Regions from separate parts of the Homo sapiens genome. Here region 1 is linked to region 2. The links come from fine-mapping of genetic effects on gene expression. A gene starts in region 2. The other region holds a variant in brackets. All regions are shown on one strand. Distances are from middle to middle. Region 1 has its middle 17 kb from the start of MIR6827. Region 2 holds the start of AMOTL2 (angiomotin like 2).

Region 1 (4,381 bases), 23 kb after region 2:
GTGTTTTGTATCACAGCATCTACTTTAAGCCAGCGGTCAACCACGGGTCATCAGCAAATGCCCCACCAGTGGGCCATGTGGACACAATTAGAAGTGTTATTGGATCTGCTGCCTTCACACTTGTCGGCTCCTCTTTCCTAGGCTGACACTTTGAACTTTCTATTGCAGAGAGTCCCCTTTCACCCATCCTGGGCCCAGCAGCCCCAGAGTACCTCTGCTGGGCTGCAGCCAGGACACTATCTGCTCTGAGCTGGAATCTCCCACATTTCATTCCCTAGGCTGCCAGGGTGGAGGTCCTGAGGTTTGGAAAGGAGGCCCATGAGCCCTGAGCCCAAGGCACCCATGTTTGCTAAGGTTTGCCAGAGTCAAGGAGAATTGGCAGGGGTCGGTCCAATTTTGTGAGGCCTGAAGCCTGTATAATTTGGAGGACCCTCTTGAAGAAAAAGAATGCAAAGTGGTGAATACAAAATTAGATCTAGAGTTTTGGAAGGGGCTTCTTCAAGTGAGCACCCCGAGGTACAAGATTCATTAGCTTCACAGTAAATCTGTCTGTCTGGGCATTGGGCATTGTGTTTCCCTGATGGGAATGGAGCCCTGGGAAGTACCCAGGACTTGGGTTCATCCTTGTCTCTCCCAGGTGAGGCTTGGATCTGGAAGTCAATGAAGTTGCAGTTTTTCTTCTGCAGATGAAGTGGCTGGTACTGGATATCCACTAAAAACAGCCCCCTCTGTAGGGTGGAGGTACCCACAAAGGGAGCCTGCGGTCTAGGCGCAGGATGGGGTTATCACCACAGAGCCTGGATGAAAGGGCTGACCAGTTTGCTGAGGACCAAACTGTAAATGACTCTCATGTGCACCCTGCTCTCGCCCACCAGCCAAACCTCCAGCCCCCAGCAGGAGTGGGAGTGGGGCACATCTGACAGTTGGCTCTCGGTGCCCTGGAGAGCCATGCCACTTGCACTTGATTGCAACAGGGACACATTCTACTCTACTCTGTGGGCCCATCAGCTTTTGATTCTGAGCCAACCTGGTGTCATGATCTGTCCTGAGATAAATGCCTCTTGCAAGTCCAAAGGCTCCTACCTGGGGGCACATTCCAGGTGTGTTGGGCAATAATTTGGTTATTTCCCTGCACAGGTTTGCCTCTTCTTGCATCAAGTTGGCCTTCTTTTGAAGCTTCAGGAGCCTTGAAAAGAGCCCTGCCCAGTCTCTCTTCTGAAGCCTTTCTTGCTCAACACAGTGTACTATGGAAATCTTCACAGCATATTGCATTATGGCAAAAATACCAAAATCTCAACCATAGAGTGACTACAAAAACCACGGCTAGGTTTGCCTTGAAAACACAATAACCTTTTTTAACTTAAAAAGAAAAACAGGCCCCTCTCTCTTCCTTTCTCCACCATTGTAGTGTGTGTTTGGCTCCGCCTCTCTCCATGTCTTCTCACAAGACTTTCAAGATTAAGCAATTCCTGGCCAAGAAACAAAAGCAAAATCGTCCCATTCCCCAGTGGATTCGGATGAAAACTGGTAATAAAATCAGGTACAACTCCAAGAGGAGACATTGGAAAAGAACCAAGCTAGGTCTGTAAGGAATTGAACATGAGATGGCACACATATTTATGCTGTCTAAAGGTCACAATCATGTTACCATATCAAGCTGAAAATGTCACCACTATCTGGACAGTTGGACATGTTTTTTTGGGAATATACTTTTTCTCTCTGAATCTGTTAGGAACTTTCTGGTTGGCTGGGTTCCGTAATAAATACATGAGACCTTTCATTTCAAAAAAAAGAAAAATAGGCCTCCTTCCCAGGGGCTCCGGATTTCATCAGCCTTCTGTGCATGCCCAGCCATACAAACCACGCAGGGATGGCTCCAAGTGCACTGTGGCCTCTTTGAACTGCAGGCCTTTGCACATCCCAATCCTTTTCCTCGCAATGCCTTTCTCATCTCTTTTCTCCTCCAGCTTGAACATCGCTTCCTCCTGGCAGCCTCCCCTCTCCAGCTTCCTTTCTGCTCCCACAGGACCATGATGGGGAGGACAGCTGGGATGTGCAGAATGAAGGAACTCTTGCTAGCAGACATTAGTCTGTAGCTCTTCTTGGGTCAGAAGGAGCCACAGGTAAAAAGACGTAACCGAGCTTTTTAATTATACAGGTGTTTACTCTTGTCCTTGCGCTGGTGTCACAGGTGGCCCTGCTTGATCAGTAGCCCTGTAGGATATTCTGACCAAAGTTCCCAAGCCCTTCCTCCTTGGCCAGGTGCCCATCCCCCATTGCCATTCACTGAAAGTGGGAGAGGTGGGAGAGGATAAAAGGGACTCTGTGGGTGGAGTCTTCAGGTCAGAGAAGGAGAAGCTGAGCCCGAGGGCTTGGGGAGCAGAGTGAATGAGCAGGTGGA[G/A]GTGGAGGTAGGTGTGTGAGCCCAGAACTGGCCCTGCCAGATGGCTGGTCCCTGAGTCAGGCCCAGGCGCTGACTGCCACATGGGCAGTAGCCAGCCCCAGCCATGGGAACAGCAGGCGGAATCAGAACTCTCTCCACCCCTAGGAGAGCCGCACCTGCCTGGAGCTTCTCCTGCCTGGCCCTGACAGCCCTGGGCTCCCTCTGGGAGAGGATAGGGGCAGGGGCAGCAGCAAGGGAAGGGTGGGGTGAAACACTTGTTATCAGGGCAGCAGTTCCCAGCCATGCCTTGTAGTGTTTGGGTCCCAAGAACAACTCACAGGGGTTGTTGATCAAGGCCACAAAGATCTGAGCCAGGCAAGGTCCAGGGAAAGGCTTCCCCAGAGCCTCCATGCCATCCCTAGGTGCCAACCTCCCACCCCTTCCTCCCTGGAAGCCAGAGCACCACAATAAAGGGAGGGGGAGAGGTTGGTGATGCCTTCTGGGGAATGGCAGCATTTGTCTCCCAGTCCCTGCCCCTTCTGTTCCCAAGTTCATGGGAAAGGAGGACCTGTCCTGTGCCACAAGAAAGACTCTGGCCTCACACCTGTCAGTGTACCTCTACTTGGGGCAGCATTTTCAAAGGCCTGTGCTCAAGTCCTGTGCCTCTTTCCTGCAGCCCCCAAGCTGGACCGTCAAGGCGTGGTCCTGGGAACAGTGTGGTCAGCTCAGGGGCCTGTGGTTGAACTTTTGCAGCCATCCCACCACTTGTCCATTGAAAGATATTCACCTCTCAGACCTCCCCTTGCACATGTACGCACTCAACTAATAGCCATTAAGGACCCAGCATGTACCACACCCATTCTAGATACTGGGGGGAGTCAATGGGGAATAAAGCAGACAAAATCCCTGCCCCATGGAACTTCACTCTAGCAGGAGTGGGGTGGGGGAAGACAAACAGGAAACTAAACTTGATAGAGTATGGGAGAACAATAATTCTTAAACTCTCTGTGGTGAAAAATCAGTTGTTTTTTTTCAATCTGCATTTGGATTTCTGAGCAATATCAAATTTAGAGATCCCATAGCTAGAGATGCTATAGCATAGAAGCTTCCAAATGCATCCCCTCAATTTCTGTATGTGTGTCCTCTTGCAGTGCTGGTCCACACTGTGTGCCAAGGTGACAAGAGCTTTGGGGGAAAAAAGGGAAGGACAAGAGGGATGAGGAGTTTGAAGCAAGGTGGTGGGGCTGCGGGAGAGTTGCAGTTTTAAAGAGGCGTTATTAAGAAGGTGACATTTGAGCAAAGATTTGAAGGAGGTAAGGGAGTGAGCCATGTGTGTAACTGAGAAATGCGCATTCCAGATAGAAGCTTTAATAAAAGGAAAGAGAATTTATAAACTTGGACTTCAACTGGTTGAAGCCCCGCTGAGGGGCGAAGGGCAGGGGCAGGAAGCAAGGGAGCATTGTAGGAGGGACACCTGTGAAGGAAAGGCCCCCCAAATCATCCCAGGCCCACCAGCATCCTGAGTGGGGCCACAGTTACATTCTACCTGGTCTCCTCTCCTTTCAGAACCTTCTTTCTTTACAAGCCAGCTCTCAACACCTGATATGAGGGTCACTCACAACACAGGCCATTCTTTTAATAAAATGACATTGTTTTCTGTGCTCAGTGCATCTACCTCCAGCTTTGAACACAAGAGGTGCTTTAACCCAGGACGTGGTCTGAGCCCTGCTTCTGCATCTATAGGCACAGGGCCATGACTGTGAGGAAGTTTCTATCCATCTGACTGGCTTCTGCATCTGAGCCCGGGTTATATGGCACAGGAGACATGTGGCAAGATGAAGATTCCTTCCTCCATTGTATGCACTTCCACGCCTGCTCATGCACACCACATGCATACATACACTTTCACACCAAACACACAGGCATGAAATACACTCATGGGCTTGTCCACATGCACACCTGCCACAAACACCCATCATAAGCCTCCAGGTAAACAATATG
Region 2 (4,381 bases):
AAAGGGAAAGGAAAAATAAAAGTACATGCACATTTCTCATTTAGGTTTTGGGATCCCTCTCCCGCTTCTGTCCCTTTGGGGACAGAAATTAGCAATCATGGGGGCCTGTGTGGCTCTGCAGCAGGCTTGTCCACTCCAAGATGTACCTCCTTCACCCTAGCTGCCTTGAACTGACGCCTTTCTGCAACCATCTCAAGAATATTTGTCAAACATTTTGTCAGGTATCCTCCCAAATGCCTGAAAGACAGGACTGTACCATGTGGTCTTTCCCCTGGTTTTACAACCCGAGTGCACATGTCCACAACCACTCCCCTGCCTCCACCAATTATGCTGTCCATAAGGTAAGGCCACTCAGAGACCTCTTTCCTTTCACTTCTAAAATTCCTACCTACAGTGGTATACTGATCACAGCTTCTCTTCGTAAGGGGATCCTTGGAAAGACAAATATCCCGTAGCTTGGCACAAATGATCCATTTGCTCAATCATCTCAGATCCAATCACTGTTTGAAACACAGTATTTGACTTCCAAGTAAAACACACACGTGCGCACACACACACACACTTTTTGTGAGTTTTATTAAAAATTAACAATGTCCCTGGCAATTAAGCTTGCAGAATTTCCTTGTCCTTGTTTCCCTCCAGTGAATTTGGGACTTGCAAACTCCATGCTGATGGGAGGACCCAGCCAGGGGTAGAAATCAGCCCTGACTCTCTGGGTGGACAGGGGCCTGACTGCCCCCACCTCACCCCAACTGACTTGTAGAGAGGGCTTGTGTGATGGGGAACGGGGACAGCATGTGTCAGAGCGAGCTTTCTGAAGAAGGGGTTTCCATCTAGCAGTGGAAGTGTCCTGGGGGCAGAGGAGAGGATTCCATGCAGGAGCCACAGAAGTGGGTACAGGGGAAAGCCCCTGGCTGGCAGGGGTGTAGGGGGAGGTAAAGAAGAGACTAAAGCAAGGACAGGGTAAGTGGAGAGAGGAGGGCTCCCAGTGTCTGCCCTGTCCATCTAGGGAGCCTGGATTCTGATAGCCAGGGAGGGGTTTTGAGAATGAGAAACCAAGCAGCCCAGTGGTTGATTACCTGGTTCTCACTGTGTGTGACTCTGGGCACGCTGCTTAAGCTCTCTGAGCCCTGGTGTCCTCATTTACAACACAGGGATGATAACAGAACTCCGTTGGAGGGTGCTTGGCAGGGCTGAATCGGATGACTGGGCGAAAAGCCAGCGGTGGCACACCTTGCACTCTGCGTAAAGGGGCGCCTATTATCACCTTGGGGAAGAACTGGACAGAGCGCCTGGCGGCGGGTGATTCAGTTGGGTAGGTGGGTCAAATTGACCGGATTTTCCAACCCAGATTCACACTTCCTGTCGAGACGGTCGTAAAATAGCTGGCGAAGGTGTTTGTAAACAAAAGTGCATTCAAAGGTTGCCGCTGGGGGTGAAAACAGCGGGGGTTAGGGGAAAGAGGCTCTGTGGCTGGAAGCATTCACTTAGCCCGGGGCACTGTCCCAGCCCAGAGGATATGGATGTCTTTGCAGTCCCTCCTCCCTTTCCCACCTCCCCCGGTACACACACACGCACACACACACACACACACACACACAGCCGGAGTCCCCTCCCGCAGCAACCCCAGGACACGCGTGGTACAGCCCTTGCTGTCGTCCCGTCGATGGGTTTAGGGATGAAGGGTGAGAGCGGGTCGGCGACTGGGAGTGGAGGCGATAATGGGCAGAGTTGGATTAAATTGTCTCCAGCAGCTCCGAAGGCAAAGCATGGGGCAGGGGCGGACACACCGCGGCCTGGAGGGCGCTGGGCGCGGAGGAACGGAGCTCGGGGGCCGGGCCGGCGCTCGGCCAGCAGCGCCGCCTCCCCGGAGGAAGGCGGGGGCCGGGAGGAGGGAGCGGGAGAAGGCGGAGGGCGGAGGAGGGCGGTGCGCTGAGAGGTTATTTGTGGTTCGCTTTGATCCCGAGGGGGAACCTGAAACTCTCACATTCCTGGCATAGCAGCCGCCTCCGGCGCGGGCCGACCCTGGGGCTGCGCGCTGGGGCGCGAACAGCCAGAGCGTCGGCGCCACGGCCGAGAACACATCTTCGCCGCCGAGCTGAGCTGGGCCGAGCCGGAGGTTGTGGTGTCTGACTGCGCTGGGCACCCTCGGGCCGCAGCGGTAAGGAAGGCCGCTCGGCGCTCGGGAGAGCGCGCGAGGCCACAGAAACGTGCCCCAGCCAAAGCTGGAGTCTCGGCGCAACCCGGCCTTTTCCGGGAGTCGGAGCCTCGAGGATCGAGCGTCCTCGGGGCGCAGTGCGCCCTTTCGAGGCAGCCGCAGTGCCTGGCAAGGGCCGCTCTGCCCAGGGAGCGCAGCGCGCTGGGCTTTGCGGGGCTCTAGAAACGCGCGGGTCTCTTGGGGCTGGGGGAGAGGGGAGAGGGCCGACTCCGGAGACAACAGCCACAGTGTTTCGGGTTGCAGGTCGGCGGGGGTGGGGGTGGCGGGGGACAGGGATGGAGGCGCCGCTTGGAGCTCAAGTTGCAGGGTCCTGCGGGCTGATTTGGTTAGGTGGGGGTTACAGGTGCCTTTGCCCCCAACTAGTCCAAGAATTCCTCTTTGTCTTCCTTGGAAAATCCTCTCTGGAGCCACGAATTGGCCCTCACTTAGAAAGAATGCAGCCTGCTGTCCAGCCCGGTGACGTCAGCGTTAGAGTATTTGGAAAACAAAGAGGGCTCGAGAGGGAGGGAGGCGGACCCGCGATGCTTAAAGACCTCTCCGGGCCTCGGGCTACCCTCACCGGCTCGCCCCAGGCGTACCAGCGGCCACCGGTGCTCCAGGTCCGCCCGGGCTCGTGGTGGGGCGGGAGCCCTGGCTGGGGTGCCAGAACCTCCTAGCTTGGAGACTGTCTTTGGTTCCTTAGGCGAGCAGGAGCCCAGGCCAAGGCTGGAGACGCGCGCTGGCTTAGAAAGGCGGCCTTCAGAGAGCGCAGCGGGCGAGTGCAGCAGAGGTTCGCGGCCGGGGGCGCGGAAGCAGGTTTTTGTAAAGGCCCAGGCGTTTGATGTCTGAAAGGACGTGAATCTGAGGGGCTTGGCCGGGACAAATTCGCGATGAGAGGCCTTGGAGATGTTCCTTGCTCCCAGTCCGGGCACACTATGGAGCGCCTGGAATCTGTCAGGAAGGCTCCGCATTCCTTCCTGCCGCTCCCCTGCCTTCTCTGTGGGAGTCGGCCCAGAGAGTGATTATCATAGGAAATGCCCGCAGATAAAACTCCAGGGCGAACTGAATCCCATACGAATTGAATCCCATTTGCTTGCTTTGCCTCGGGTAGCTCTGGAGTCTTGCACATCTACCCCTCGTTGTGTGTGGGGGGCGCATGACTGGGTGCCAGGAAGGATGGGTACAGAGGTGCCCTCCAGACTCATCCCCCACTCCCCAGCTCTGGGCAGCTGGAGTACTGGGGTGGGGAGAGGGAAAAGATCGGGAATGGCTGCTCTGCCAACATGCCATAGCCCAAACTGAAGCAGGACACTAGGGCTAGTTTAGTGGCAGAGGAGGGGCCACATTCCTCCCACCCACCCCCCCAACCCCTGCCCATACACACAGGACCTGTGGCAGTGTGGATTCTGTTTAGTTTTCCCTGGATCCCAGTTTGGAGATTTGTGTTGGAAGAGGCTGTGGAAAGGAAGCTGGGTGAGAGAGGCAGGCAGATTTCCAGTCCATGAACCACTGGGAGCCCAGGCTTAGAAGGGAACTCCTTTCTCCGATATAATCTCCCAGCACTTTAGGCTCACAGTCCCCTCTCCCCTGCCCCAGGTCTCTCAACCAACAGCCTCCCCTTACTTCTCCAGTTGGCCCAAGTCAAGATGGGCTTCCTTGACACTGATGTCAAGAAAGATGCTGAGTGCCCATCCCTTATGTGCCTAGAGGACCAGTGGGGGCTTTTCCAAGTAGCGTGTGTGTGTGTTTGTGTGTGTGTGTGTGTGTGTGTGTGTTGGGGAGGATAATCATAAAATCAAAGACATCATGCCATCCTTCCTTTTTCCTGGAGCTCTCTTGCAGTTACTGTCAGCACAAAAGACTGACCCACTAACCTTAATGGGTGGCACCTTTTTGCCTCATCTTACAAAACCATTGTCCTCTTGAAGCATTTTTATTCATCCTTTATTCACCAATTCAGGTGCAATTACTCCTTCTTCCTGTTCACCTTGCAGAATGACTGCCAAGGTCATCCCATGACAGGGAGCCCCAGATTCATTCTGTCAGCAGCGCTTGATGAAGCAGAGCCCAAGCCCATCCTCCAGGAGTTCTCTGGTTCAGGGAGAGTGGGAAAAGTGGCCAGGGGTTCAGCGGGCTAGAGGGTGGTAGGTTGACTGTGCCAAGGCTCTGGGATGCCTCAGTCTA

Evidence for each region. PIP is the estimated chance that this variant, and not a neighbour inherited with it, causes the effect. A credible set is the group of variants that fine-mapping cannot tell apart.
Region 1: its variant is the best candidate, but not a certain one, in a credible set for the expression of AMOTL2 in esophagus mucosa (GTEx, PIP 0.55).

What each region holds. Positions count from the first base shown.
Region 1 is chr3:134,349,141-134,353,521 of GRCh38, reverse strand. It overlaps the pseudogene RPL39P5. Among named protein-coding and RNA genes, the nearest start is that of MIR6827, 17 kb to the left of the region's middle. The variant G/A (reference allele first, on the strand shown) is at 2,402.
Region 2 is chr3:134,372,122-134,376,502 of GRCh38, reverse strand. AMOTL2 (angiomotin like 2) reads left to right here and starts at 2,056. Exons shown (of 10, transcript NM_016201.4): 1 at 2,056-2,161. RefSeq lists enhancers at 399-1,196, 1,197-1,996, 1,997-2,796.